Linked DNA regions of Homo sapiens: all the other regions are linked to region 1. Evidence: fine-mapped expression QTL. A gene starts in region 1. Each other region holds a variant in brackets. All regions are shown on one strand. Distances are from middle to middle.

Region 1 (10,875 bases):
TTGAGTAGCTGGGATTACAGGTGTCTGCCACCATGCCTGGCTAATTTTTGTATTTTTAGTAGAGACAGGTTTCACCATGTTGGCCAGGTTGGTCTTGAACTCCTGATGTCAGGTGATCTGCCTGCCTCGGCCTCCCAAAGTGCTGGGATTACAGGCCTGAGCCACTGCGCCGGGCCACAAAAATTTTTAAAAGACAAAAACGTTTACTCATCAATAGAGGGAAAACTTAACTTTCCAAACAATCTGTCTCTTTCTTTTTTTCTACAGTTTATTCAAAAGGGTAGACAAAAAACTTTCTTTTTTTAAAATATTACATGAAAATCTTGTTCAAGAGAGAGAGCCAAATTTACCCTTGCCTTAGTGCACTATTGATGTCAAACCTAATTCTTAATAAAACCTTATAAACAAATCTATCCAATCTTAATCATTATGACCATAACACTAAGATTCTTATAAACCTTTTCTAATCCTTTACAATTTTTGTGACAGAGCAGACTAGTGTTGTAAGAAAAAACCTGTTGTGCTTTTATTCCAATGTTCAATTTATGAAAAAACTAAATAATACTCCTTTAACTTTTAGCTAATATGTTCATATACAGAATTTCTTTTACAAGATTAATTTTTCACAAACATTCCACAACTTGCCCAAATCTTCAGCTTTTTCCTATCTAACTTAAAACAATCCTTTAACCTTTTAATCTAGGCAAAAAATCCACATTCCCATGGTTTCTTATATAATCTTTACCAAAAACACATTTCACTTTCCTTACACAACTTGCATGTAAAACTGTTTTTATTTCCCAAAGATTACTTAAGTTATGTGAACTAAAAGGCATTACACTTCTTACTTTTCTGACGAAATGTTTGGTTTAAGCACTTATTATTTTTTAAGCCAATTAATTAGAGCTCCTGTATATATAAACATCACATGCACAACACAGATAAATAGAAGAAGATCTACTAGTTGTAAGATTTTTCATTTGCCCGTGTTTCTTAATTGAATTACTGGCTTCAGGGTGGAACAGGGACAGGAAAACAGGCAGTTTCTACAGCCTAATAAGCAGGCACAGCTGGAAGGCAAAACAGATTCCCCTAAAATTAAGGGTCCCATTTTATACCAGATCCTGGATCCCCAAAATGAGAAACACTATGGAAAAAGACAGTACAGTGATTTTACTGTGCATTTCATTGCAAAGCAATCTAAAGCCAATCAGTCCATTCTGTGATTAGCCCATCCCTCATAGGAGTCTTATCTCTGGGTGTGTGGGGGCTGGGGAGACACATCTGCATACCTTCCAGGTGGCCAAGAGCATACTTCTCCAATCCAAACACCAAAGAGTCAAGTATTCGCCCATAACTGCCATTAGCCTTTCCTAAAAGTATATTTCCTACCTAGTTATTATACACAAAGTAGTTTTTGATACCCAAGAGTCAAAACATCAGATAACACAATGTAATGCAAAACAGAACAGAGCCTAAGATTTTGAGAGAGATCTATCCACTTTCAATTACTGATTTCTCTGAGGAAAACAGAGGTTTTTCCCAGTGCTGGATCTGGGGCATCTCCTCTGTTTTTCCCAAGGAGTCCCAGGCTGTTAGAACTTGAATATCCACTTTCAATTAAGTGGACTTTTCACCATAGCACTCTTTTTTTTTTTAAAGTCCTTTTAAATCTCTTACTACCACCTTTAGCCATGCCAAACTGCCAATATTTCTGGCTTTTGAACTTTACCAAAAATAATCTCACAGGTGAAACCCATAAGCCTTAACTATTAAGCTACAACATTGGGAAGTTTCCATTGCACTTCCCAGAAGGAGTCTAGAGCAACCAATTTTGAGTTTGCAAAGGCATAAATTTTGGGAATAACTATGACATGAACCCCCAAATTCCTGCTCCCTGGATGGCAGAGACCAAGAGAAAGTACTGCCACATGGTTACAAGGTCAAGCTCCCAAGGACATTTTTCAACATGTGGTCTCTGGGCAAGATGAAAGAGTGAACAGTTAACCTAACAGAAAAGTTAGAAAAGAGAAAGAAGAGAAAGAGAAACACAATTAGGAAACAGCTGTCCTGGGGTTGTCATAAGAACCAACTCAGATCAAGTATATGAAACTTCTTCAAAAACTACTTCTTGAAATGACACAAATGTATCGCATGTAGTACAGAGGCAACTAGAATTTAAAAATAGGGCTGGCCCTGGAAAGTGATACCGTAAATTAGTGAATAATGAATCAAACACAATGACGGAATAAGGGAGAAAGCCTGGATAGGAGAGGCATGCTTGCCTCAATAGCATGCCTAAAGAAGGAATCGTAGGACAATGGTAAGTTTTATCAGAAATGAAAATTAGAGAAAGGCCACTTTGGGAGGAAAGTGTTGACTGTGCCCTGCTGAGCTCTGCCACAGGGAGGGAGGGGTCTGACCTTTGTAGCCTAGCTGTTTAGTGCTTGTGGCAAAAATATCCACATGGGGGTGACAAAGACTCTCTGTGACCAAACAGTCAAGCTCCCCTGAGCCTTCTTTTTATCTAGGCATTGTCCTTGAACCCTGTCTTTGGCCTGCCTAGTCCAGCTTTAGCAAGAATTCTGCTAAGTTAGTTCAGAGAGAATACCCCACCCTCTGTATTGGATCAAGTTTCTCCTCCCTTATCTTTGACATATAAGTCCTTGACCTGCATTCAGCAAGAATCCCATTAAGCCAGTTTACAAGAATCCCCTCTACCCCGATGTCTCCTCCTAGTGATTTTTCATCATGGACTCCCTCACCCTGCCCACTGGATTCACTGAATCCCTGAATTCAAAGTTGAGCCTGATTGCTCCTCTATTGCCGTAATCTTGACACCTATTACAATGCAAATCTGAACAAGTTTCTACACTTTCCCTGCTTCCCACTACCCCCCAGAACCCTGAGATCCTGCTTCTGCCTCCCACTCTGTATTCAGGCTCAAGTTCACTGATAATGTAGGCTCAATCTTTTTTTTTTTTTTTTTTTTTTGAGGCAGAGTCTCGCTCCCGCTCTTCGCCCAGGCTGGAGTATGATGGCATGATCTCGGCTCACTGCAACCTCTGCCTCCTGGGTTCAAGTGATTCTCCTGCCTCAATCTCTTGAGTAGCTGGGATTACAGGCACCCACCACCATGCCTGGCTAATTTTTGTATTTTTAGTAGAGATGGGGTTTCTCCATGCTGGCCAGGCTGGTCTCAAACTCCTGACCTCAGGTGATCCACCTGCCTTGGCCTTCCAAAGTGCTGGGATTACAGGTGTGAGCCACTGTGCCTGGCCAGGTTCAATCTTCATAAGCACCCTGTGATCTCTGTTTCTGAGCTTTAAAAATAATATCTTTTCCTTGTCTGACAAACATTGTTTTCCTTCTAATTAATATCTTCACCTCTCCCAGGCCCTGCCAGACTTTTAAAATCCAGGTTATATGCCCTTCTTCTGTGATTCCATGGTACCCTGTACCTCTGCTATCCCTGTGCCTATCAATCGATATAATTCATTTTGTCTGTATAATTAACTTTCCCAAATTTTTATTATTAGATCATAAATCAGGAAGAGAAGGTATTTATTTTTATTGTACTGCTGTCACATTGTTTCACATATGGAAAATGTCTAAAACATTGGGAATTACAATTGAACTTGAGATTTGGGTGGGGACACAGATTGAAACCATATCAGACATCTATAAGGGCTTCAATTTTATAGCTGATAGTTTTCTTCATAGAGTCACAGGCAGGGTTACTAAATGTTAAGGATAAATTGAATTAGGTCATTGAACTGGACTACAATCTATTTTGAAGCTGTCTGTTTAGAATCATGCTAGGTTTGCAGTTCTGTTTAAATTCTGTCTTACCTAAGCAAGACAGAACACATAATTTATAATATAAAATAAGGCAGCTCCTGACCAGCTGTTATGTATTTTTACAGAAGAGCTGGCAAATGTAAGCATAAATTGCAGTAAGATATGCAAAATAAGGACTGGATGGCAAGTGGGGGGATGGGTTAGAAGTGCAATAGCCTATGAGAGACACTTCCCTAGAGATATTTCCCATCTTAGTATGTGAAATGTTTATAGGTAGATCCTAATAAGCATAATTTTTCTTAATGGAACTTGGTTCTTAGATTCCATCATGCATCATTTTAAAAAATCAAAGTGGAATCGTCTCAAGATTAAAACAAGTATATTAATTCAACAAGGCTTATTTCATTGTATAGAAAAATATACTGTAGTTCCAGCTACTCAGAAGGCTGCGGCAGGAGGACTGAGACCAGGAGCTGGAAGCTGTAGTGCACTGTGATCAGGCCTGTGAATAGACACTGCACTCCAGCTGGGCAACATGGTAAGACCCTTTCTCTAAAAATGATACATACATATACATATACATGTATACACACACACACCCCAGTATATATATTTTATAATCTGTTGTATTTTCACTTTTTTCTTTTATTATGACTTTCTTAACTAGAGATTTTACATTTCAAGGAAGGAATGGCATGATGAAATCAATAGGATCTGGCTGGTCTTTCTGTTTCTTCATTGTTACCAGATCCTAAATCTTTCCCCTTATCTGGCTCAGGATTCAGGTGTACAGCAGATAATTCCATTCCCATCAAGGTACTGACTGAAGTTAAAAAAAAAAAAAAGTCACCCCTGAAAGCCCACCTGCCTCACATTATGAATTCCTCACTGTTAAACAATACTCCCCATTGTCTTTGCTTCATTCATAGCTCACAGTGTCAAACCTGTTGGAGCCTGGAAGCAGCTGCCCAAACTCACTTAGAAAGAATGAAGAGAAATAAGAAAAAGCGAAAACTGAAGTTAGGAGGAGACTCAACGTATCAAAGTATCGTTCTGTGTTTTTGAGTGTAAGAATACTCAATATTTTTATGGGTGTGAATTTACTTTCTGTTAAAAAATGATAAAACCTACCGTTTATTAGGTACTTTCTCTACATGCTAGAACCCAATATACACATTCAGTTAGGTACTTTCTCTACATGATAGAACTTAATATACAAATTCAGTATACACTGAATATACACATATATACCCAGTTTGATTCTGGACCTCAGCTCTTCAACAAAGCTGAGGTCCAGAATCAAACCGGGATCCCCTCCATTTCTAAAGCCCAAGTTCTTTCATCTAAGATATGCTGCCTCAGAGAAAGCAAAGCCCCAAAGACAATCTCATTTGAGATTTTATCAGCTTGTTTATTTAGTTAAAAAAAGAAAAGGAAGAGGAAAAAAGGAACGCATGTATGAAATGAGTCTGTCCAGGGTATCCAAAGATCACGAGGGGCCAATGTTTGCCATTGGAGGGGCTGTTGCTTCCTCTCCGCCTCCACGCTTCCCTGCGCTGCACCTCTAGGTGAAACTTCAGCGTGCCGCGCGGTGGTGCGAAGGTGAGGGCAGCGCGCAGAGGAAGTAAACGGGGACTACAGGGGACCAGAGACGTGAGATAGTCCTTAAAATACATATCTAATCTGTCCTCGTCATTTTCCACTGCCACCACCCTATTCAACTACTCGGTGATAACCCTGTAATTCTCCAGTCTCCAATCTGTCCTCCCCAAACCCTTCTCCGCAACTCCTCAAGAGGATCATCGGGTGGAGTCCTTCCCCCTTCTGAACCTTCCGTGGCTGCTCACTACTCCGAGGACCAAGTTAAACATCCTTTAGGTTATTTAGCTGCACGTCCTGGCCCCTACTCTGTACACTAGCTTCTACATCTGGCCGTGTACCCACCTGTTCACTGTGCTCCAGCTACCTGGCCCTTTCCTCCTTCAGCTTCTTTGCACAACTTGTCTGTTTTGGCTCCTGCTTTAATCTCAGCTTTGATGCCACTTAGGCCTTTCCTAGCTGATTCCCGCCCTCACCCCTGTTACCCGCCATCTAATTACAGCTCTCTAAATGTGCTTCAACAGCACCTTTCATGTCACTGATTGCAATTTGCATTGAATACTTGCCTGATTATTTTTGTCTGCAAGTGCCACATGGGTTTAGCCCTGCTCCTGACAAGCACACTGCTGAACTGAGTAACTTTTGAATGAATGAATGAATGAGTGAATAAATCAGTGAAGGTCCTACTTGGCACTGTCATCATCCTATCATCAAAATATTTCGAGTCCCTCGGTGTTGCTATCCCTGGCATGCCCATCCCCGCGGGCTGGCAAAACCCTGGAGGGGGCAGCCTCCCAAGGCACCGCCGCGGGCTCAGCCCATCTAGGAATGACTCCCGCACCACGCGGCGAGGGGCGGGTCCGGCGGCGAGGTGTCCTGCTGCCTAGCAGGTTCACGTGTACTGGTGCAGGTGGGGAGGAAGGCAAGGAAGGAGCGCAGCAGGGCGCGCCAGATACGTGGAGGGGAGCGCGGGCGGCGCCTCGCTCGCCTCCGGCTTCGCCGTCGGTCACTGCCTGGGAACGCGACTTCCTCCTCTAGGGGCCGACGTGCGGGGCGGGGCGGGGCCGGGCGGGAGACGCCCCCGCAGGGCTGGGCTGAAAGCCGCCCCAATGGGATTCGGTGCGGGGCAGCGACTGCGCCCCGTCCCGGCGCCGCGCTCGTCCGCAGAGGAGGCGGCCCGGCCCGGGCAGCTGCGGCTCGGGATCCGTCGAGGGGAGGCCGAGCTTGCCAAGCTGGCGCCCAGCGGGGTCATGGTGCCCGGCGCCCGCGGCGGCGGCGCACTGGCGCGGGCTGCCGGGCGGGGCCTCCTGGCTTTGCTGCTCGCGGTCTCCGCCCCGCTCCGGCTGCAGGCGGAGGAGCTGGGTGAGTGGAGCGCGTCCGGCTGGCGGCGGGACCCGAGGCGCCAGGGGCGGGCTGAGGGCTGCGGGGCGGGCCGGGCCGGGCCGAGGGCTACGGGGCGGGCCGGGCCTGGGGGGACGGAGCGCGGGAGGAAGTCGGGCTCGCCGCCTGCCATCCGCGGAGTCCGGCTCTACCCGCGGGGCTGGGGGTGAAGTAGGTTACTGCATTCCTTGTCGCTCCCCCACCAAACTCCTTCCTTCCCCCAAAACCAGAGAATTAACCTGGCGTCTCTGCACTTTCTCTCCGCCGCCCCCCAGCCCATTTCACTTAGTTTCCAGACTTCCTGACTCTGCTGGCCCCGTGAGAAGTGACCTGACCCCGAGGGTCGCCTTAGGGGACAGCCGTGTGCAGGGCCAGTTCTTTCCAGCTGCCTTTTGACAAAGCCGCTCCTCGGCCGGCGCTGGGCCCTGCCCTCCCTGCCGTCGCTCCTCCCGCGCGGAATTGGAATCCCGGCGTGTGCGTTCGGGGCTCGTGCGGAATGGCCGGGGCACGTTTGCCGAGGTTGGCCTTGGACGCTGGCGAGCAGGCGGTGCTGCCACCTCCTCTCGAGTGTCCTGCTGGCGCCGCAAGTTGGAATCGTGTGGCTTCCTGTGTATTTGAGCCGGTAGACTCTCAACCAGGCTGCTTTTTCTCTGGAGCTGGTCTTTGACTTGGAGTTAGACCTAATTAACCCACAACCGAGTTTACCCTCTGCCTGTCCAGCATATTAAAGCAGCAACCCCCTTTACCAGCCCTGGGTGTCCCTATTTCATTCGTCCTCATTAATTAGTGCTTTTTTTTTTTTAATAGCAAGGGCCAGCTTTCTGCCGAGTTGTTTCAGTGTTTCCTCTCCTCCCTTGCTCCTGGCCGTATATGCCTGAGCTTATTTAATGGCGCTGAGTCTATCCGGAGTACTTTGACAGCTCCCCCAACCACCATGCTTTCTGGTGAAACAAGAATCAAAACTAAAACCAATGCCGGCATTTTTTTCACTGAACTATGCCTCCATTCTGAAACATTGATACTCGAGATGGTGGTGGTGGTTCCTAAGTTTATATTACATACCAGTTTGTTTAAAAAAACAAAATCCCCAAAACCCTAAAGTGATTTTGTCTGGTACTGTAGCACAATACTAGGCAGATTGTAAAATTGTAATAAATACGTAAGATTTTGTTAAATGCGTAGGACTTTTATAATGGATGTTTTAAATATTTTTATTTTTTTCTCAACTCACAGTTTGAAGGTGCACCTTTAATACTATACGTCTGTGAGAATCAGTCCAGCAGTATGTTCCTGTACTAATCTGGCCAAAGCTGTCACTTATCTTTCCCAATAAAGATTTAGATTTTGTATGGTCATCCAGGCTGTTAACTGGGCACTTTGTGAGAGCGGTTCTCTAGGAACAAGTGTGATTGCTTAGATTCTTTTTAAAAACCTATTATCATTATTGTTATTTTTGAGACAGTGTCTCACTCTGTCGCCCAGGCTGCAGTGCAGTGGCACGATCTCAGCTCACTGCAGCCTCAACCTCCTGGGCTCAAGCAATCCTCCCACCTCAGCCTCCTGAGTAGCTGACACTACAGGTGCATCCCACCACACCTGGCTAATTTTTGTATATTTTGTAGAGACAGGGTTTAGCCATATTACGCAGGCTGGTTTTGAACTCCTGAGCTCAAGTGATCCACCCACCCCGGCCTCCCAAGGTGCTGGGACTACAGGCATGTGTGGTTGCTTAGATTCTTACTGGGCTTCAAATCTTTATAATTTTATAATGTTAGGGTTGTGATAAAATGCTACCATCTGTGTTATAGGCAATTTCGTATTAGACTTTTATTTATTGTGTGGTTTTAGGAAACAAATGGTATAACTTAACCTGAATGTTTATAAGCCTAATCAATACAATTAATTAATTTTTTGTGTGTCAGAGTCTGGTGACCCCATAAAGCTATACTGGGTCCTTTGTAGGGCAACTGCTTGCCTATCTGGTGTTTTTCTTGAATTAAAGTTTTAAAAAAGTGTCCACCCCTCCCGTTGTTTGCAGCCAGCCAGGTCCAGGCATTGGGGTTTAGTGGCCAGAGCTGGGATTATTTCGGCTCCTTATGCCCTGTTCTTCTGGATCCGTTTAACTAAAGGTACATATTTACATAGATTGTTTCACATAATTTTGACCTTTCATAATAAGACATTAAGTTGATCATTAGTTTTTATTCCACTTGTATAAATTCGTAGGTTTGGATTTAGTCCAAATTTATTACCTTGATATACATTTTTGTAGAATAAAATACCCTTCATTTGTGTAATGAATTTGTGCAACCTAAAACTCCCTGCTTCTCTCTCCACCACAAGATTTGCAAATGGTTATTAGCTAAAGTATTCCCTTGTGATTTAAGTGAAGAATCAAAATGAGCGCTTGATCTCTGAGGAAACTTCCAAGTGTAGATTCAAATCTTGCATACTTAAGAATTGCTTCAAAACCCTCTGCCCAACTCTTAATTTGTTATTTAGAAGGTCTGCTGTTAAATCATCTGTCATTTATTTTGGGTTAGACATAGGATCAGCTGATAGATGATGTTTTAGGTGAGTGGCTTTTTTAAAAATCAGCACAAATTTATTCTGTCACCTTCTGTACCAGTGTGTGCACTCACCCTTCTGTTGTCTCATCTGGACAGCTAGCCTTGTAGACTGTAAGATCCTGAGGGCAGAGACTGGGACTATATAGTCTTTGTCTTCCTAGTATCTGACAAAGGTGCTCAGTGTTCCTTGAGTTGAACTGAACAATCTCTTTGTGTTTAGGATATATTTTCAAATGACTTCCTAACTAATGGAAACCAAGTAATAAAGAGCCTACTGACATTCTTTATAAAGGTGTACATCTGCTGCTTCTACTAATTAATTTTGTTTATCAAGCCCAGCTCTCTTGGCATGCTTATTTCTATATGTAAGGATGCCTTTTAAATGAAAATACAGCAGAAAGAAGGGAACATGCCAGCAGAACAATATGTACAATATCTTTTGGCTCTAGTAGATATAATTTGTAACACTCAGAAACAGTGAGTTATATATTAATATTTCAGAGAAGAAAGAGGTTATGTTAAAAAATTCATTAAACAAATCAAATGGTATGTTTAAAGCAGAATTTGAACTCTGAATAATGTCCCAAACTGTTTTTATTAACTTTTCATGTTACAATTTGAACCCTTTAACCTTGTGGAACTGACACAGACTTGAAAATCATTTTAAAAAACCACAGCTTGGAAATTAGTAAGGCATCTGACATTTATGAGGAATTATGTCTTATTTTTAAGATACATGGGGGCATGAATTTAATTGCAGCATTTAGCAAAGGTTTTAGTTGTGTTAAAGCAGGGAAAAAAAGTTTGTTCTGGGAAATATACCCCATAGTGTTTACACCTATTTCTACATGTGTCTTAAAGCATAAAGTCAACTCTGTACGTATTAGAGCAATTAGTTGTTTTTCTTTATTAAAACAAATCAATAAATGTTAGCTATCTTAGTATTCATTACTGTTTATTACTATTGATTTGACAAATATTGAGGACTCTTTGTTCTGTCTCCTCCACTGCCTCTCTGACTTCATTCCCTGAAATGCTCCCCCATACTCAGGCCTCTCTAGCTGTTTGGTTTTTTTGCTATTTCTCCAAAATGACAAGCACTGTTCTACCTCAGAACCTTTGCACATGCTGTTCTCTGCCTGGAATAGTCTTGCCCCAAATATCCACAAAGCTTGCTCCTCCTTCAGTGTTTGTTTAGATGTTGTCCTCTCAGGGAGAACTTTCCTAAGCACTTGAAACCCTCTCTTCATTCCCAGAACTCCATATTCCCCTTCTTAGCTTTCAGTTTTCTCTAGAGCAGGGATCCCTAAGCCCTGGGCTGCAGACTGGTACCTGTCACTGGCCCGTTAGGAGCCGGGCCACACAGCAGGATGTGAGCAACAGGTAATGGAGCATTACCGCCTGAGTTCGCCTCCTGTCAGATCAGCCGGGCATTAGATTCTCATTGGAGCTTGAACTCTATTGTGAACTGCATGTTTGAGGCATCTAGATTGCCACGCTCCTTATGAGAATCTAATGCCTGATG
Region 2 (10,875 bases), 65 kb after region 1:
AATAACATTAAAAGTACATTTTTTCAGAATATAAAATAATTTGCATATCAATTTTATAAGAATTTGGAAAGATTAGAAAAACACAAATAAGAAAACAAAAATTAGTCATAAATCAGTATCCGTAGATAATCACCAAATCTCACTGTTTCTAGTCAACTATATTTATGTTTCTAACTTTAAGACAAAAATGGTAGCATATCATATTATTCTGTTCTGTAGCATATATTTTTCATTTAACATTGTATTATGAGCATTTTCCAATGTTATTGGAAGGTTGAAAACCCCAATTATTAATGTCTTTATAGTATTTTTTCACATGGATAAACCATTATTTACTTGACCATTCCCCTGCTGTTGGATGCTTTAAGTTATTTGATTTTCCCCAAATTTTCACTCTTAAAAATAACACCGCTACCGGGCACATTGGCTCATGCCTGTAATCCTAGCACTTTGGGAGGCCGAGGCGGGCGGATTGCCTGAGCTCAGGAGTCCGAGACCAGCCCGGGCAACATGGTGAAACCCCGTCTCTAATAAAATACAAAAAATTAGCTGGGCGTGGCAGCATGCGCCTGTAGTCCCAGCTACTCGGGAGGCTGAGGCAGGAGAATTGCTTGAACCCAGAAGGCGAAGGTTGCCCAAGCCGAGATCACACCACTGCACTCCAGCCTGGGTGACAGAGCGAGACTCCATCTCTTAAAAAAAAAAAAAAAGAAAAAGAAGTAATAATAACACTTCTGTTACTTATACACAAATTTGGTTTTCATCTAAATCCCTTTTCCCCTTCTTCATGAATTGCATTTTTCCACTCTTAAGCATCCCTTTATTTTCTTCCCAGGGATCACAGAAGAGAAAGATGAAGAGCAAATATTTTTCCTTTACTTTGTGTATTTTCTACAAACTTGGGGCCTGCCTTGGTGGCTGTCAAAGTGTCCTTTTTTTAGAGCAGAAAGAGTTGCAGGAAAACATGATGTGGTGTTTCATGCAACATAGTGGAAATGCAGTTTTAGGTCATCAGGCTGCACTTCCTCTCAGTCCGCAGCCCCAGAGCTCTGTAACGAGGATCCCAGTTTTCCAGACTATTGTTATGGTACAGGTCCAAACCCGCCTGCCATCTGGGGAAATGTGTTGCTTGAGCCAAAGTAGGAGCTCCACACTGTGCTTAAATCATTTACCTGTCTAAATAGTTCTCACCTGAGGGGTGGGGGAGGGGTTAAACTCTCCCCTCATTTCAGATTTTTGGAGTTTAATATGGGCCAAGCAACAAGCCCAGTGTGCCTGTTAGTCCCTGAGGAACATTGGAAACTGTCTCTGGGGGGCTGGGGGAGAAATTTTACTTTCCCAAACTTTAGCCAGGATTTTGAATCCTTTCTTTTTGCTTTCCAATATCAGTAAATGCCTAACATGTATTCATTTTCCCCCTATATTAAATGCTTAAAGACTTTTCAATTCCATGTTCAGTTTTAAATCATGAAAAGTGGTTGTTGGTCATTTATGTTGTAACGTGATGGCTTTCCGTCTTCTTTAGGAATAAACATTACAACGGTGGCTATTCCATTGGTGCTCCTTGTTGTCCTGGTGTTTGCTGGAATGGGGATCTTTGCAGCCTTTAGAAAGTATGGTGACTTTACATGTTTAAATTTCTTCTCTAATTATGCGAACAATAAAAAACCAAAAAGTTTATTCTTCAGAAATGCATATGTACAAAAGCAGCATGGCTTCTTTCAAAATAAAATGTTAACTTATATTTTACAAACAAGTTAGATAAAAGTAGAAATGATCGAGTATTACTTTATTAATCTTTTTTTATAGACAGGGTCTCCCTGTGTCTCCCAGGCTGGAGTGCAGTGGTGAGATTGCTCAAACTCCTGGGCTCAAGCAAACCCCCTGCCTCAACCTCCTGAGTAGTTAGGATTACAAGCATGTGCCACCATGCCCAGCTAATTTTTTTATGTTTTGTAGAGATGGGATCTTGCTTTCTCACCCAGGCTGGTCTCAAACTTCTGGTCTCATTTGATCCTCCCAAAGCACTGGGATTATAGGCATGAGCCACCGCACCCCACCATGTATTACTTTATAAGCAGTTCTTGTCATTTAGAGACCTTTGGTAAAGACTTAACCTTTGAGTATTGTTGAAGTATCCTGAAATTGATATATTGCTTTAGAAGTATCTGTGCTTCTCCTCCCTGAAGAGTAAAAGGAATATTAAATAGGCTGCTTGGGGTATCACCAAGCTGCCCCGTAACTCAGCCTCCCCAAGCCTGTTTCCTTATGTATAAAATATAGTTTACCCAGATGAATTCTGAATCTCTTCCAGAACCCTGAGATCCATGTTTATTTTGACAAATGTTAGATGTTGGATCTAAACAAAAAATGGAAAGTATTCTGAAGTTTTCTCTTCTTATATTTTAAGCAACTTCAGAATCTATAATGTGTATATTAGTACAAATAGAATGAAGAATAGTTTCTGCCATCATGAGAGAAGGTACAAAAGTCTCTGGTTCAGGTAGATATTCATAAGTTAAAGCATGCCTTAGTGTAATGTGCTTGTATGAAATGCTTCTAAAGACACCCACAGTTTTGGACTGGAGTATAGTAGAGATGAAGTGAGACCATGTGGTCATGAGGAATTGCTTCAGGATGACTGCATGAGCTAGTGATAAACTTAATAAGGCACTGATTTCTAATATGCAAAATAAGATTAGTATATATTCTTCTAGTGAAATCTTGTGACCTTTCTTATAAATGAGATAAATTTATAGATAATTCTACATATTTGTATGATTTTCTAAAGCACATGGCAGCTGCCATCTCATTTAATTCTCACATCAACCCTATGAGGTAAGTACTATTATGATCCTTATGTTATATAGGGAGAGAGAGGCAGATACATTGGCTTATAAATATTCAGTAGGACTTTTTGTCTTGATAGGAAGAAGAAGAAAGGAAGTCCGTATGGATCAGCAGAGGCTCAGAAAACAGGTTGGTTGAAAACTCTATCTACAATTTTATCTGTCTTTGAGGAAGGGACAGGATCTGCTGATTGAAAGCATAAGGAGGCCAGTGGCCCACATTTATTTGGTTAAAAGACATAAGCCCTGTAGCCTTTAAAGTAGCATATCTATAAGGAAGAAATTTATTGTGTTCTGTCTCTTTATTTTAATGGCCACTTTACTTTTGTTCAATGTCATCCCCTATCATTTGTCAACATCCTTTTTTCTTGGCCACTGGAGTTTAGGCCACGACACTGTCTGCCATCAAGGAGGTATGACAAAAGCCTTATCAGTGAACTGAAGTAGGCCCGTGTTGTTAGCATCTGCAGGCCTGTGCTGTACTTTCCACCCTGAGAAAGTGAGAAAAAGACCAGGCAGGGCTGGTGTGCAGGTTTCAGATAATCCTGCACACCAGCCCCGTCTGGTCTTTTTCTCACTTTCCCAGACACAGGTGCCCAAGCAATGAGTTAGCCATGGTCCAGAGAGAGAGGGCAGTGGGGCAGGACCCCTGAGAAAGCTCAGGGACCATTTGAGACTCCACCTCCCCAGGGTCTAAACACCAGCTGCAGTGTCTCCTCTGCCTCACAGATGCCATGCCAGTGCAGATTGTCGGAGACCATACCCAGATGATCTCACAAAGGGAGAATCTGGGACCTGATGAGGGCAAAATACCTTTTAAAGGCACAGCGGAAAGCATGGTTAGAGTAGTGTTTGCTGTTGTGGTTAATGACCTTGGCATGCTGTTCTTAGCACACACACCTGAGGAGGACATTGATCACTGTCAGCTGTCAGGAGGCAGCCTGACCTCTGACTCATCAAGGAACATGTTCTGGAGGACGCGCATTACATTTCTGACATATTCATTTGGTTTATGTTACCTTTATTCCAGACTGTTGGAAGCAGATTAAATATCCCTTTGCCAGACATCAGTCAGCTGAGTTTACCATCAGCTATGATAATGAGAAGGAGATGACACAAAAGTTAGATCTCATCACAAGTGATATGGCAGGTAAGTGTCATATTTCTAGGACTGTGCTATTAGATTGGAGGTGCTGCTTGTGGGGGAGGGAGACAGGAGAGAAATAAGGCAAAATCCTTTTCTATTTAGATAGGGTCCAGTAAATCTGAAATGTGTTTTTTCTGCATTCTGCACAGAATTACAAACTGACACTGAGATATTACTTAAAAGCCCTATTCAGCCAGTCTTTTCACCTGCAGGGGATATAGTGACATCCATAGTGATAGCCCTGATGTACTACTTGTATCTGGAAGCCCTGAATCTATTTTTGTTACCAAAGCTTTGATTAAGGCACTGGTACAGAGGGGCTGAAAGGAGGAATTAAATACAGTTCCTGCCCTGAGGAAGGTGAGATAGGAAATAAAGGAACTCTCTCAGTATGAGAAGGGCCTCAGTGTCCCTGACAAGCCACATCAAGAGTCGAGCTTCCCAAACCATCTATGGGGAAATGCTTTTTGTTTCTTTTTTTAAAATTTCTACTCCATCATGAATGAATACACTGTAAAATGCAATATAAAATACTAGTAATAAGGAAATTTTAAAGATACAAAATACAAAGCTCTAATTTTTTATTATTAGATTCAACAGACATAAAATTAAGAGTAATAAAGAGTAACTAAGAGTAGTTTCTTGACACTTAGTCTCAATTTCTGCACCTGTCTCTATGGCACTGCTAAAAACAGCTCTCAGATACATAGGACTCTGTGGGGCATGCTCTGAGTAGCACTGCGCTCTGGCTTCTCCCTCCTCACGTGCAGCCTGAGGACCTGCAGTATAGGCATCACCTGGGGGCTTGTTAGAAAGGGAGGCCATAGAACTAGAAGCTCCCAGGTGACGCCTGTGCACATCAGTGACTGGGAGTTGTCAGCCTAAGGGTTGGTTGAGTCACTTTGTGGACAAGGAGAGCATCCTCTGCAACCAAAATCCATCCTCTTGTTCCTTGGAAGTGACATGAAGGGAGAACCTAATTTCTGTTGTCTTATGCCTTTCATTCTCCTTCAGCTTCTAATTCAGTCTCTCCTCCCTCCTCCCTGAATGATCCTCAGGCTCCTTAAATGTGCAATGACCCGGGTTCTGTCTCACCCCCACTCACCACAGTCTCTCCCCTAAACAGTCCCACACCCTCCCCAACTTCCAGCAGTGCCCTTCCCTGCATGTTTGTCCATGCTGCTTCTCACACCCAGACTTCCCTCTCAGTCCCCAGTCCATAATTCTCAGCAGCCTGCTGGACACCTCCACCTGCAGATGTCACCCGTTCCTCAGCAACCACAATCGAATCCA[T/C]TGTTCCTAACCCTCACCACAGATGCTCTGTGCATTCCTTGTCTAATGGCTTCTCGACTGCACATCCCAGCCTCAAAGAGTCCTTGCCTCCCGGCTTTCCTCACACCCCACCTCTCATTGGTAACAAATTCCTGATTCCTGTCCCAAAGGGTCACTTTTCCTCTTTCCTAGTTTGTGACTTCTATGTGCATTTCTCTTTGCTTTTTTACCTCTCACTTTTTGATCTTTTCCTCTTGGGTCAACCTCCACAGTTACCTCTGAAAGTGCCAGTCTTTCGTTTCCCATAGAATTAAACCAGACTTCCTAGCAAGACAATCAATGCTTTTCCATGCTCTAACGCGTGGCTAACAGCATATACTCAGGATGTGCGTTCGAATCCTACTCCATCGCCCCATTGTGTGACCTAGGAAAAGTTAGTCTCTCTCTGCCTTGGTTTCCCATTTGTAAAATGGAGTAACAGTTCCTACCTCGGGATTTTTTTGAAGATTATTAACATCTTGCTATTGGAATAGCGCCTGGCAAAGAGTAGGAGCTCTATAAATGGGAGCTCCTGGCATCATCCTCACTGTCACCACTAGGCCCTGACCTGTTGCTTTGGTCCTCATATCCTATTAAACAAACTACTCTGTGTCCCTCATACTCTGGCCATATCAACTCTATTTTCGAGGCTGTTTTTTTCTCCATTTCCACACTGTGTGACTTCCACCTCCATAGCTTCTCCAGAGCCAGTTTCAGAGCCACTTCCTCCCTGAAGTATGTCCCCATGCCCCAGGACGTCGTCGTCGCCCCCATCTCTGAGAAGACCCTGCGAAGCTTCCTGAGCAGGCGGTGCGGTTGTGTACTGCCTGCGGGTGGCTTCTGTGGCTTTCACATCAGGGTTTTCCGCAGTGCCTGGGACACCTGAGGGCACCCGGGGGGAAAGTCAGTCACCACGACCTGAAGCAGAGTATCCCCGTCTGCCACTGACAGGCCGGCCCGTGTGTGGTGCCCGCTAGCTGCCATCTGTCTTGTGGTTTCAGATTACCAGCAGCCCCTCATGATTGGCACCGGGACAGTCACGAGGAAGGGCTCCACCTTCCGGCCCATGGACACGGATGCCGAGGAGGCAGGGGTGAGCACCGATGCCGGCGGCCACTATGACTGCCCGCAGCGGGCCGGCCGCCACGAGTACGCGCTGCCCCTGGCGCCCCCGGAGCCCGAGTACGCCACGCCCATCGTGGAGCGGCACGTGCTGCGCGCCCACACGTTCTCTGCGCAGAGCGGCTACCGCGTCCCAGGGCCCCAGCCCGGCCACAAACACTCCCTCTCCTCGGGCGGCTTCTCCCCCGTAGCGGGTGTGGGCGCCCAGGACGGAGACTATCAAAGGCCACACAGCGCACAGCCTGCGGACAGGGGCTACGACCGGCCCAAAGCTGTCAGCGCCCTCGCCACCGAAAGCGGGCACCCTGACTCTCAGAAGCCCCCAACGCATCCCGGGACGAGTGACAGCTATTCTGCCCCCAGAGACTGCCTCACACCCCTCAACCAGACGGCCATGACTGCCCTTTTGTGAACACAATGTGAAAGAAGCCTGCTGTGGTACTGAGCGTCGGGCTGTCACAAGGCACTGGAAGAAGGGAGCCTGCTGGTCCAGAGTGTGCGTGTGTATCGGTGTGTGTGTACACTTGCATGTGTGTGTGTGATCCAGTAGGATCCTAGAGACAACCTGTCATACTGTTTACAAAATTGTGCAGCTGGTTTCGTGCTGACCCTTAGGGTGCGTCTGTTGGGTTTTGTTGGGCTAGAAAAATGAAAATTTTCAGATGGCGTTTTCATTCCTCTGACTGATATTGAGCTGCTTTGGTGTTAAAGGTGTAATGTGTACAGAGTTGTATTTAACAATAATAAAAGTAACTTAAGTTTGCTCTATCAGATTTTAGTTCTGCACAGAGGTTAAGTGGGAAAATGCAGCTGTTGCAAAATGTATATAAATAGTATGTTCATTTTTTTCAGTATATTATCTGATACTGTGTTAGCAGCAGGTCTGCTTAAACCTAGTCTTGTTGTTATTGAGTCATTTCCTCTCCTTTGATAACTAGAACTGAAAGCATTTTTAACATTCTTCTCCTGGAAGAAATGAATTACTTGAAGCATGAAAAGCACACCAGGGTGGTTGTTTATTTAGCAATTATGACTGTAGATTTAAAAACAAGCAAAGAAACAACACCTCAGCAGCTGCCCGTTTCCTTAGTCTCCACTTCAGAGGGGGATGCGAAGAGGTCGGCCCAGCTCCGGTGACCATGAAGGTGGCACAGGAATTACAGTGTGAATGGCTGTGTCAGATGTTTTCGTACCTCAGATTAAAAATATTGCTGAGGTCAGACGCCACAATTTTCATGACTTTCTTCAGAAGTAGCACATTTTCGTGACTTCCGCTGTCCTCTGAAAAACAAAGTTATTTGGAACATGTTCATGCAAAAGTGATTCTGACCAAGTCTAAATCGAGCTTTTCTACTGACATGAAACTGTTGGAAACTGATCTCATTTTATAAGAAATGATTTTCCCCTCAAGGAGGCGTCTGTAATTCCAGAACAGTCCAGACATCAGCTGTACCTCATGCTCAGTAGTTTTTATTTGAGTTTCTTTTGTGAGTTAACTATGGGAGATTTAACCTCTTTTGCCAAAGAGGGAAGTGTGTGTGTTTTTTTAATAGAAAATATGGACCAAAAATTTTTTTCCCTGAAGAATGTATTATAACCCTATTTGTGTGGTTATTACATCCTGTGAAATGTATATATGTTAAAATAATGGGGGTGCTGGAAGGTCATGGCAGACTAGCTGCTGGTTAGTGTGGAGGGGAAATGGTTTACTTTGTAGAGTTTACATGGTTTTATGCGCACACTAATTGTAATAAACTATGCCAAACCAAACTGCCCCTGACTCTCACTAGTCAGCCCTGCTCGCTGGGGTGTTAGAGGCACTCAAGGTTCAGCTTCTGTAAAAAGGCAGGTGCCACAGTGGAAAGAGAAAGAGCTTGGTGCCAGATTAGGCCAGACCCCAATCTACCACAGAAGAGAAGTCTGGCTGCTTCTATAATGATGAGACTCGGTTTCCTCATGTTTGAAAATGGTGTTGTCGTGCTTTCTTCCTCCAAAACTTACTGATAAAAATTAGTTGGAACATTTATCAAAGTGTTGTCTATAGTAGGTCCTTTTTTCTAATGTAAGCCTTCAGTGGGCTGTTTACAGAATTTTAATATTGGAATATTAGACCATAAGCATAGGCCTAGATCTACAGCCCTTCTTTACAATAGAGCTGTCTTCATCTATCACAGTTCTTCTGCGGCACTAGTGATCTAATCATGACCAGTGGGAGAACAGGACTTTTTTTTTTGGATCATCACTTCCTCAGGGTAGACTCTGTAGAACAGGTTGGGTGAGTGGAAAGGTCTGATAAACCCTACACAGCTAAACCTAAACTAGAGGATAAGGGCAGAAAAATTTTACATCTTTCTTTTTTGGTGTTTTGCAATATCAGCATATATGATAAGGCGTGAATGAGACAATTCTAATTGTCTGACTTATGTTATCAAATCCTACTGGGAGGCAAAGATTGTATTCTGCCACTTCTTAAATTTGCGGTTGAAACACATTTGCTATGACAAGCAAGACTACACTTACACAGGCTCCTGAAGCTTTGCTCTGGGTTTTATTATTGTTATTTAAATGTTCATTAACGTTTACAGTCAGCCTAGAAAATAGAAAGGATGTGAGAGATTGTTTTGTGTTTATTTTATACTGCTTTGGATTCTTAACATGAAATCACATTTGTAGGCACAACTGTATATACCATGAATAGCTATGAGACCTTTCCCCACTCTGACCAGTCACAGCAGTCCAAGTGTGGCCACCGGGTTGACCTCACTATTCCTAAAATGCTTATCTTGCATTCATGCACGTACCAAATAGTTATTGAGGTTCTGAGAGCAGTGTTTACCCTGTACTTTCTTGAGTTGAAAGAGAATGCCTAGTCTCTCCCCCAGATCTGAGAGCAGTTGAATCCCTCCAATGAGAAGCTAGGGTGAATACAAACACCCCAACCTGCAAGTATTTCCTGCCCAAAACACAGCCCATGCAGTCACCCCATGCCACATTGCACACCCACCCACACTGCTGTGTTCACATCCCACTACAGATCCCCTGTCTCCCACTGATCTTGCTCCCAGCCTCTCCTTGTTCTGGGATAAATTCCCCTAGGGGCTTTAAAGGTTTTTATTTTGTCTTTGGTATTCTGCAATTTTACTACTATGTATTGAGCTATGAATTTGTTTCTGTTCACATTGCTCAGGACTTGTGCCTCTTGAATCTTAGCATTTATCAACTATGAAAATGATCAGCCCTTTTTTTTGGTTGTTTTCTTTATTTTCTCCTGGAAATCCTATTGGATGCTCATTAGAGCTTCTCATCCTATCTTTGATTCTGATACCTGAGTATTTCCATTTATTTATTTATTTATTTATTTATTTATTTTTAGACAGAGTCTGGCTCTGTCACCCAGGCTGGACTGCAGTGGCACTGTCTCAGCTCACTGCAAACTCCGCCTCCCAGGTTCATGCCATTCTGCTGCCTCAGCCTCCCGAGTAGCTAGGACTACAGGCGCCCACCACGAGGCCCAGCTAATTTTTTGTATTTTTAGTAGAGACGGGGTTTCACCGTGTTAGCCAGGATCGTCTGGATCTCCTGACCTCGTGATCCGCCATCCTCGGCCTCCCAAAGTGCTGGGATTACAGGCGTGAGCCACCGCGCCCGGCTTCCCTTTATTTCTTAAGACATTAGCTAGGCCTTGTGAAGAATTCTGATTTATTTGGTCTGACATTCCTAGGAATTCATAATAGACAGGTTTTCTTCTTATTTAGTCCGCCGTCTTGCTGGAATGATGCCTCCCCAACAGGTACAAGAAAGCATATTTATTAAAATATCAGGCCAGGCACGGTGTATCACACATCCCAGCACTTTAAGAGTCTGAGGCAGGTTGATAGCTTGAGCCCAGAAGTTTGGGGCCAACCTGGGCAATGTAGTGAGACCTCCTCTCTACAAAAAAAAAATTAAATTAGCCAGTTGTAGTGGTGCAAGCCTGTAGTCCTAGTTACTGGGGAGGCGGGAGGATCACTTGAGCCCAGACGGTGGAGGTTGCAGTAAGCCAAGATCACGCCACGGCACTCCAGCCTGGGCAACAGAGCAAGACCATGTTTTTGTTGTTGTTGTTGTTTTTTAAAAAGAGAAAATAGCACAGGTTTAGAACCATACAGAACTTGGGTTTAACTGGAGATTTAATCTTTGTAACTATGTGATTACAGGCATATTACTGGTGCTTTCTAAATCTACTTCTTTATTCCCAGAATGGAAATTATTATAAAAGGGCTGTTGTGCAGACTATATTATAGTGTTTTGTATACATTAGATGATCGATCAATATTAGCTCATTTTCTCTCTGCCCAATCTGAAGTCATCCAACACCATTTGCCTTAGAGTCCTTTTTATTTTTCAAGAGGAGGCTGCCTGTCCTCCCAACAAATGCACTTAACTGTGGCACACACCCTCCTCCCA
Region 3 (10,875 bases), 19 kb before region 1:
AACAACTACACTCCTCTCTAGTGGTGAGAATAGTACGTTTACTCCTTAGCTCAATACGCTGCTTTTTGTTAAGTCCAGGCTGTACCTTGATCCAGGTGGATAAGATGATAGAAAAATTGGCTGGCAAATCATCATAATAACAAAGTTCAAGTTACTTGCGTGCCTGTGAAAGCTGTAGTCTCCAAGAGGGGCTCCCAATTAATAGCACCCCTCTTACCTACCCAGTGATGAGCAATTTGAGTAAGAAAGTAAGAATAGAAGTCATTACTAATTAAGTTCAGCTGGAAGTGTAGAACCCAAATGGGCCTACTGGCTAAACCACAGAATTAACATTTGCCCACTCAATCCTAGGAGGCCCAAACCTAAGCGAGTCCTCACAACGGAGGCTGGCTCCCAAAAGAAAGACAAAGAGCTGAGCTATGCATGTTTCAGGTGTCTTTCTAAATTTACCAATACCTCTTTTTTTTTTCCAGTGGACAGGGAAAAGTTATTTACTAAATCAGTAAATGAATGTTTGTGTGAATGAATAAATTTGATTCTTCCTGGATGATGAGTGGGAAATTTAAAAAATGTGGAACACGTCACAAATTTGCGTGTCATCCTTGTGCTGGGCCATGCTAATCTTCTCTGTATCATTTCAATTTTAGCATATGCACTGCTGCCGAAGTGAGCACTAAATTTACCAGTGCCTCCTAGCTGCTGTTTGCATTCAATCTACTCAGCTTTCAATTCCATATAACCAGCCTTCCCTTACTTCTTCATCTCTTCCTCCTTTAATTACCTCAGGTGCCAGCTAATCATACTCATTTCAAGGCACGGCATCATCAAGGTCCATACCCAGCCCCTTTTTGTTTATTTACATATGTATTATTTATCTACCATCCCTGCTCTCTTTCCAGCTACAGGCAACAGTTGTAATGTGGTTTATATGCTTTCTTGAATTTGTGTGCAACCTTGTAAAAAAAAGTATTGTTGTTTGTGTATGTTAAACCCTTCTATAAAATTACATATAATGGTTCCAATCTGCATCTTACTTTTCTTACTCTATACCATGTTTTAAAGACCTGTTTGTGCTGTTACATGTACATCTAGTTCATTGCTTCTAAATGTGATATTGTGCTCCATGGTGTGCATCCACCACGTTGTACTTGCTCATTCCAAGTGATGGACATCCTAACTCCTCTACTTCCTCATTCATGTCCTGTTATGATCCCGGCAGGGTAGTAGAGCTTTGGGTACCTAATTTGGTTGAAGACTGCAAAATCACTGTCCATAAGCTATACTAGCCTACATTCCCTCCAGCAGTGCAGAAGGTTGCCTGTGACCCAACACCACCACCAAATGTTGTATTATCCAACTATTTTTGCCACTCTCGTCACTGTAAATTGGTATCTCATTGCACTGAAAATTCGCATTTCTCTTGTTACTAAGAAATTTTGACAGCTCTTTATACACTCGTTAAGCATTTGGATTTCTGTGAATGATTGTCATATTTATTTTTCTCATTTTAAGTAACATTCTCTGTATTTTTCTGAGGAATTTGTGGATACAAACATGTTGCAAACATTGGTGTGTGTTTAGGAGTTACAAATATCTTCTCCCAATCTTTCCATCCTTCTATAAATTTTGTCCATTGCATCCTTTACAAAATAGAAACCTTTAATTTTTTTGCAAGAAAATTCTGAAATGATATTGCCTTATGGTTGCATTTTTCTTCTCTCTGATACCAAAATGAGCCTATATTCCTTCCTATGACAGTTTAGGATAGGCTATTCAAGTTTATTTTTGCCCCTCACAATCAAGTTACATGATGAGTTTATCTATGATCTCATTAATAAAAGATTCATATAACCTACATATCTACATACAAATAATACCTTTTTGCTTTAGATGAAAAAAAAGGTTGGTTTGTTTTAGTATCAAGGTTGTGTGGGCAAACAGACTTGGTAACTGTACAGAATAGGAGTTGAATAAGAATCTCCTCCCCTAACTTCTTCAGTGGATATGAACCAAATTACTCTAAGCAGTAGATTAATAAATGGGAGAAGACAAAATGGGCTGTCCAGACCTGTCTAGAAACCCACAAATCAAGCCGAGCCTAAATCAGGCCTGAGCCCAAATCTCAAGGGCAAAGACTCAAACTAATTTATCATCTTTAGATTGACATGGAAATTGCAAGGCCTTTCATTGTAGTCTTGCCTTGTGGTCCTCCAGCACAGTGTGTGCTTTTAACACACTTTTAAGTGCTTTTAAGTGCTTTTAAAGGTTTCAACAACCTTTAAAAAAAAAAGTGCTTTTAAAGCACTTTTAAGTGCTTTTAAAGGTTTCAACAACCTTTAAAAAAATTTTTAACTTTTAAATTTGAGATAATTTTAGATTCACATGCAGTTGTGAGAAATTATGTAGAGAGATCTAGTGTACACTCTTTACCCAATTTTTCCTACTGATACCATCAACAAACAATTGTGCAATATCACTACCAGGATATTGATGTTGATACAGTTAAGACACAACCATTTCCATCACCACTAGCATCCCTTTTGTTGCCCTCTTACAGCCACACCACTTCACCACTGCTGCCCCCTACCCCTTACCACCTGGCAACCACAAATGTACTCTCCATTTCTACAACTCTGTCATTTCAAAAGTGTTATATAAACAGAATCATATAGCACATGATGTTTCGTTATTGGCTTTTTTCACTCAGCACAATATGGAATGAATTGGCAATTTACTCAAGCTGATGTATGTATCAATAGCTTCTTGCTTTTTTTGCTGAGCAGTATTCCATGATATGCATGTGGCACTGTTTAACCACTCATTCATTCATTGAAAGACATCTGAATTGTTTCCAGAATTTGGATATTATGAATAAAGCTGCTATAAACATTTGCGTACAGGTTTTTATGTGAATATAAGTATTCCTTTCTCTGTGATAAACACTTATGAGTGTGATTGCCGGTTTGTATAGAGTTGCATGTTTAGTATTTTAAGAAACTGCCAAATTATTTTCCAGAGTGGCTGTACCATTTTATAATCCCACCAGGAATGAATGAGCATCAGTTTCTCTGTCTTCACCAGTATTAGGTGTTGTCACCATTTTATTTTAGTCATTATGATAAGTATTACTGATAACATATAGTCTTAACTTGCACTTCCCTAAGCTATAATGATGTTCGGCATCTTTACATGTTCTTGTTTACCATCCATATATCCTCTTATGTCATATGTTTCTTCGTGTCTTCTTCCCATTTTCTAATGGGATTGCTCGGTTTTTTTACTGTTGAATATTGAGAGTTCATTATATGCTCAGGTACGAGTCCTTTGTCAGATATGTGGTTGGAAAATATGTTTTCCATGCTGTAACATGTTTTTTTATCCTCTTAGGCTTTTTTTTTTTTTTTTGCAGAGCAAATTTTTAAAATTTTTACATAGTTCCATTTATCAACTTTTCCTTTTATGGATTGTGCATTTTAAGTAACAAGTCTAGGAATTTCTACCTAGCCCTAGACACTGAAGATTTTCTCCCATGTTTTTTTCTAAAATTTCATAGTTTTAACACTGAAGATATAATCCATTTTGAGTTAATTTTTGGATAAATTGTGTTTGTTAAGGTTCTTGTTTGTTTTTGTTTTTGTTTTGCTCACAATACGTACACCAACATAGACCATATCCTGGGCCATAAAACAAACTTCAATCACTTTAAATAATTGAAGTCATACAGAATGTGTTTTCTGACCACCATGAAATCAAACTAAAAATCAATAGCAGAAATATCTCAAGAACTTAGAAAAAGAGGAGCAAACTAAAACTAAAGCAAATAGAAAGAAGAAAAGAATAAAGATAAGAACAGAAGTCAATGAAATTAAAAACAGAAGGCCAGGCGTGGTGGCTCATGCCTGTAATCCCAGCACTTTGGGAGGCCGAGGCAGGTGGATCATCTAAGGTCAGGAGTTCAAGACCAGCCTGGCCAACATGGCGAAACCTCGTCTCTACTAAAAGTACAAAAATTAGCTGGGTGTGGTGGTGGGCGCCTGTAATCCCAGTTACTCAGGAGACTGAGGCAGGAGAATCCCTTGAACCGAGGAGGTAGAGGTTGCAGTGAGCCGAGATCACACCACTGCACTCCAGCCCGGGTGACAAATGTGAGACTCCATCTCAAAAAAAGGAAAAAAAAAATTAAAGACAGAAAAACAATGGAAAAAATAGGTAAAATAGATTTGGATCTTTGAGAAAATCAACAAAATTGACAAACCTTCAGCAAGACTGACAGAAAGAATAGAGAGAATATATAGATTACCAACATCAATATATAAAACAAGGGATATCATTACAGATTTTGCAGACCTCAACAGGAAAATGATGAAATACATTACTATAAACAACTCTACACACATAAATTTGACAACTTAGATGTAGTGAACCACTTCCTTGGAAAACAAGAATTACTACAATTTACCCAATGTGAAAAAGATAAGTTAAATAGCCCTTTAGCTATTAAGAAAATTGAATTTATAATTTTAAAGCTTTCAAAAAGAAGTCAGTAGGCCCAGAAGATTTCACTGGAGAATGCTACCAAATATTTAAAGAAGAAGTAACATCAATTATACACAACCTTTGGAGAAAAGGAGGGAACGCTTTCCAATTCATTTTATAAAGCTAATTTTTCTCTCATACCAAAACAGACAATATAAAACAAAACAGAAGAAACAACTTTCAGGCCAATATTTCTCATGACTATATACACAAAAATCCTTAACAAAATATTAGCAAATAGAATTCAGCAATATATAAAAAATGTACACCATAACTATGTTTATTCCAGGGATGCAAGGCTGGTTCAATATTTGAAAATTAATCAGTATAGTTCACCATATCAACAGACTTAAGAAAAACAAAATTTACATGGTCATATTATTTGATGCAGGACACACATTTGACAAAATTCAGCAGCCACTAATGAAAAAAACTTTCAGAAAAATAGATATAAAAGGGAACATAAAAGGGAACATTCTCAACTTGATAAAAAAAATCCACAAAAAAATCTATAGCTAACATTATACCTAATGGTGAAAGCATGATGCTTTTTTCCTAAGATTGGGTACGAGATAAGGATGTGTTCTCCTCTTACTGTTCTTATTCAACAGAGTGCTGGAAGTTCCAGTCAGTTCAGTAATGCAAAAACAAAAACAAAGCAGGCAAGGAAAAAAATAACCAAAACAAGCAAAAGAAAAGAAAAGAAAAGCATATGTAAAGGAAGAAATAAAAAAATAAGACTGTCTCTATTTGTAGATGACATAGTTGATTATGTAGAAAATTCCAATGAACCGACCAAAAATTTCCTAGGCAGCATAAGTGAGCACTTGAAAACAAATATGTGTTCTGCTGTTAGTTGGTGAAGTGTTCTATAAATGTTAAATAGATGCTGTTCATTGATG[G/T]TGTTGAGTTCTTGTATGTAATTTCTGACTTTTTGTACAGTTGTTCTATCAATTGCTGAAAGAGGGGTGTTGAAATCTCTAATTATAATTATGTATTTGTCTATTTCTTCTTTCAGTTCTATCAGTTTTTGCCTCACATATCTTATGGCTCTGTTGTTGATATCCACATATTTTGTATTGCTACATCTTCCTGTTGGACTGAACTTTTTATCATTTATATATGTATAATGTCTTTATCCCTGATAATTTTCTTTGCTCTAAAGTCACTTTATTAGATAATATGGCCACTCTTGCTTCTCATTGATTAATGTTTGCATGATATACTTTTTCCATCCTTTTGTCTTCAACCTGCCCATATCATCATATTTGAGGGGAGTTTCTCGTAAACAGCATGTACTTGGGTCATGGGGTGACTTAAGTTTGCCATTATATTTTTTCTTTTCTATTTGTTCTTTCTGTTTTACATTTCTCTATTTTCTTTTCCCTGACTTTCCATGCATTACTTAAACATTTTCTAGAATTTCATTTGGATTTATCTATAATGTTTTTGAGTGTATCTCTCTATACCTTTTATTCAAGATATGGAGAGAGAGAGATCTTAATCATAATCTACTGATGCCGTTATTTTTCCTGTTCAAGTGAAGTATAAAAATGTTACCTCCTTTTACATCCTTTTACTTATTTCTTTTGTAATAAGATAGTCTTATACAGTATATTTCTTCCACATACATTTTTAAACACATCAGGATCTGTCTGAAATAATAATAATATGATAATACTATATTTTTGCTGTACCTGTTTAATGTTCAGATATGTTTAGATACACAAATACTTACCATTGTGTTACAATTGCTTACAGTATTCAGTGCAGTAACATTTTGTACAGGTTTAGCCCAGGAGCGTGTACCATGTAGCCTAGGTGTGTAGTAGGCTATACCATCTAGGTTTGTGTAAGTACACTCTATAATTTTATTAGTTCATTTTCACACTGCTGTAAAGAACTACCTAAGACTGGATAATTTATGAAGGAAAGAGGTTTAATTGACTTACAGTTCCACATGACTGGGGAGACTTCAGGAAACTTTCTATCGTGGCAGAAGGCAAAGGGGAAGCAGGCACTTTCTTCACAGGGTGTCAGGAGTAAGAGAGAGCATGGGTGGGGAACTGCCAAACACTGTTAAACCATCAGATCTGAGAACGAACTCACTATCATGAAAACAGCATAGAGGAAAACACCCCTATGTGTCAATCACCTCCCACCAGGTCCCTCCCTTGACATGTGGGGATTACAATTTAAGATGAGATTTGGGTGGGGACACAGAGCCAAACCATATCAAAAATGCTCAAACAATGACGAAGTCACCTAACAATGCATTTCCCCATCATTAAGTGACACATGGCTGAATTATGTTATGAGACCCAGGAATTTATTTATACTTTCTCTTTTAGCTGGCTTTCTCTCTGATGCATCTCCAGCAGAAGAGTGATGTACGGCCTCATGGAGCTCTCAGGTGGAGGTAGAAGTCCAGGTTCCCCACATGGCCTCCTTGACATTTGAGGTGGGGGGACATTTGTGGAGTCAGTGGAGACAATGTGGAGGGGATGTTGGGATGCTTTGTTACAGCCTCAAGAGGGTGAAAGTCTAGGTGCCCCACTTTGCTGGTGTGAGTGACAGTAGGGCCACATTTGACTGTGGTGTTTGAATGGATTAGAGCAGTTACTATCTAAAAGTTTTCCCTCATGCTCTGCTGACCCTTTTCTGATCCTTTGACTAGAGAGGACTGGCTTTTGTTGGTTTTTATTTTATCATTTTTGTTTTGTCTGTGCCTGCTGGTGTTTGCCGGTTGCAGGCTTATTCAGTTCTAAGTCTGGTGTATGTAAAGCAAAAAGGAAACCCAGGTGACTCACCACTGTGTCACTTCTCAGATCCCAATATCTCTAGGCAGTCTGCCTTCTCTCTTCCTTCTAAAGTCTTATGTTTGTACTATATATAATATTCTGCATTTTTAGTTATACTTAGAGGAAGGAATAAGGAAAAGTGTGGCTACTCCATCTTCCCAGAAGCTGAAGTCTAATAGCTTCTTTTTATATAACACATTTTTAGAACACAGCACATTGTACATTTCTAGAGCAGATTTCCCACAGAGCGAATTAAGAGGGTTATGGGATTTCTGTGATATGTGAACATACAGAAGAACAAGGGAGAAATAGGCTTTGCCATCATGAAAGACAGGAAGGCAGAAAGGAAACAGTTGTCTCTAAAATAATAATCTAGTCACTCTTGTGCACTAGCAGAAGAGAGCCAGTGACCTAGTATAGTGTGCAGAAGTACCTGGCTGAGACTCCAACAAAAGCTTCAATTCCTCAGCCTGTCATTCCCAGTGTTGTGCTTTTATTCTGTGAGCATTGACGCTTTCTTTTAATACCTCAGTCAGACATGCATGAGAAGCATAACAGGGGCCTTGCTATCCCACATGATCAGATTTTTTTACCCCCAAACCAAACTGTTTAGTTTGCTTGGCTCTGGAAACCCCCAACCCTAATTCTACTTGTGGCCTAGTCGTGACAATTTTCTTGGTCTCAACAATTCCCAACATTGTGCCATTTTGTCTTTGGCAGTTCCCTGTTACGTTCTAATTGGAGATCAGGCAGATTAGCCTCCTTCCAAGGAAAAGCAAGACGCTCTTAGTCTCCCAGGGAAGGTCTTGTGACTCCAGAAAACCTAAGCTTATGCTCTGAATCCCAGTTACACTCAATAACTAGAGAAGAAAACTTAAGAATATAGGTACAAAGATGTCATGGGTCCCAGGCCCCAAATCTGATGAATAGTACTTAATTCCAAGTCCCATTGTTAATAAGGAAGAATATCAAATGTGTCCCAGCACTCAGGGGAAGTCTTTGGAATAAAGCCAACTGGGTTCACCTTCAAGGAGGGACAGAAAACCTTGGCTGAGGAAATGAGACAGGATTGATATTCTTAGTTTTCAATAGCTCCTCTTAAAAAATAAATCTTCAGTAAGATGTGATCAGTTACCATCTGAAAAAGATCTCTGAGCTGCAACAAGAGAGCAAAGCTTTGTAAAAATGGATCATAGAATAAGCATGGAGGACCCTTTAAAACTGCAAAGAGGAAGAGTGTGGAAAGGAGGTGGAGGAGAAACTGTTTAGCTCATATTTTAACCACAGTCTGCCAAATTTGTCTCCTTAAAGATCTCATTTGGTAAGTTTGAGAAGGCAGTAAAGAGCAGGGTGCCAAGACAGGGAGGAAGTGGTGGCACACACTTGTGGTCCTAGCTACTCAGGAGGCTGAGGTGGGAGGATTACTTGAGCCCAGATTGAGGCTGCAGTGAGCCACGATTGCACCACTGCACTCCAGCCTAGTTGAGAGAGAGCAAGAGCCTGTCTCAAAAAATAAAGAAAGAAATAAAGACAGGGGCAAGGAGAGGGGAAAAGGAAAGTGCCTGGGATCAGACTGCTTGGCTTCCAACAGGAGTTCTGCTAACCAAGTGTCAGGGCTTCTGGATTCTTTATAACCTGCCTCTCAATCTCCTAATTCTATGTTCTCTATCCAAATAGAAGTTCTATTAACTAAGGGAATAGTTGTCTGAATAAAGACTTTGGAATTAAACCTCATAAAGGATTCCCTATTTACTTAGAAATCTCTGCTAAGAAAGATTATTCAACTTCTTGATCTCAAGATTTTTATCTCTCTTGTTTTTCTCTGAATATTGATCATTTTCGTTTGGTCTGGAGTCATGAAAATGTTTAAATCACATGACACAACATTAAGATTTTCAGAGAAAATGGAAAAAAAAGATCTCTTTAAAAGGCAAAGCCTCTATGCTCTCAAACTTGCTGAAAATTCAATCCTTCATGTATTTAACTAAATAAGGAACTTTTCTCAGGATACAAATTGTAAATGTAGGAGATAAAAGACTATAGAAAAGTGTATGATAGGTTTTTTTAATTAGTAAAATTTACTTTTAGAGCAATTTTAGATTCACAGCAAAACTGAGTGGAAAGTACAGAATTTCTGTACACTCCCTTTCCCCACACACTAACAACCCCCGCATTAGCAACATCCGCCACCAGAGTGACTTTTGAATGGATACTCTCATTGTCCCATGCTTCATACCTTTCCTCTCTGTGGGCACTGCAAAGTGTTCATGGGTGTCCTATTCTTGCCCCATCCATGTCAGATACCTGTATTTGAGAACTCTCAGATCTCAGGTCTGAACATCTGAGAGTCACAGTGGGAGGCCAGGGGATGGGAACCACATTTTTATTGTTTCTATTACTTTTTAAGCTTCCAGTAATACTTTCCAGACATCCCAAGAGATTGCCTCCACTTCCTTGGAGTCTCACAGCATCCTGACAGCCACGCAGGAGGTGTTCCGGGTCATCCATGCCTCCTTCTTGTAGAGATGAGTGAACTGAGGCTGAAAGATGGGGAGGGGTTTGCACCAGGTCATGGAGTTGTGGAACCAGGGCTAGAACCCAGTTTTCTTTGACTGCCTGTCCAGCACCTTCTCACTGTGTCATATATCACATAAGCATAGCAGTTGAGGGCAGGAACAGGGCTGTGCTAAGGGCTCTTCAGTTCTCCTACTCCCTCCTCTCAGCCTCCCCTGCTCTGACCATATTGGTTTTAATTTCTCAGAGGTTTTAATCTCTCAGTTCAGCCTAAAGGCTGAAGGTCAGTATCAGGTTCAGTATTGGAAGACCCTCCAGCCCTCTACCCAACCAATGGTAACCTCTGCCTCCTGCTGTCCGATCTCTGTTAACTACTTGCTCCCCAGGGTCCCTCTCCAGCTCTTTCTACTTTGGTTCCTGGCTCAGATGGAGGGGCCCAGAACAAAAAGGGTGAGGCACTGCAGCCTATTAGCTGAGCCTCCTGAGACTCAGCTTCTGGGTCTGATCCCAACACTCAGGTCAATAGTTTGTGGCTATTATGAGTGAAGTGGAGAGTTCTCCATCTTTATCTTGTGGGCTCTGAATGATGGTTGTACTGTTATAGATGTGCATGACTCCAGAATTTTCCCAGAGTACAAGGACCCTAGCTCTGCCTGACACATGGATGTTGAGCCTCCACATTCCCCTCCTCTCCACATTACCCAGGTGAATGCCTCAAGGCACAGTGGAATCCCAGCCTCTGAGCAAGAAATAGAAACTCTGAAGACAGTAAAGCCTGGAACTCTTCTCCGGCTTGCTTTATCAAGCACTGCACATTTGTCTGTCCCTTCAGTTTCAATTTCTTTTTTTTTTCCACTTATTATAAAGGACATTGCAGAGGATGCAGATGAAGAGACACATAGGGTGAGTTACGAAGGAAGGGGTGCAGAATTTCCATGCCCTCCCTGGGCATGCCGCCCTTCAGGAACCTCCACATGTTCAGCTATCCAGAAGCTCACTGAACTTTCTCTTCTTGGGTTTTTAT

What was found.
Region 2: its variant is fine-mapped to the expression of DCBLD1 in naive CD4 T cells (Schmiedel 2018, PIP 0.95). The same link has a PIP of 0.9 or more in cerebral cortex.
Region 3: its variant is fine-mapped to the expression of DCBLD1 in whole blood (INTERVAL, PIP 0.98).

Annotation. Positions count from the first base shown.
Region 1 is chr6:117,476,132-117,487,006 of GRCh38, forward strand. It overlaps DCBLD1 (discoidin, CUB and LCCL domain containing 1), which reads left to right and starts at 6,543. Exons shown (of 15, transcript NM_001366458.2): 1 at 6,543-6,762. The coding sequence starts at 6,651. RefSeq lists silencers at 2,011-2,060, 6,419-6,998 and enhancers at 7,359-7,438, 7,449-7,498, 7,529-7,578.
Region 2 is chr6:117,541,599-117,552,473 of GRCh38, forward strand. DCBLD1 (discoidin, CUB and LCCL domain containing 1) reads left to right here. Exons shown (of 15, transcript NM_001366458.2): 12 at 1,526-1,613; 13 at 2,930-2,979; 14 at 3,880-3,999; 15 at 6,309-8,199. The coding sequence ends at 6,841. Among named protein-coding and RNA genes, the nearest start is that of GOPC, 55 kb to the right of the region's middle. RefSeq lists enhancers at 5,933-6,022, 6,573-6,632, 6,643-6,692. The variant T/C (reference allele first, on the strand shown) is at 5,290.
Region 3 is chr6:117,457,169-117,468,043 of GRCh38, forward strand. It overlaps the pseudogene RNU6-253P. Among named protein-coding and RNA genes, the nearest start is that of DCBLD1, 20 kb to the right of the region's middle. The variant G/T (reference allele first, on the strand shown) is at 5,439.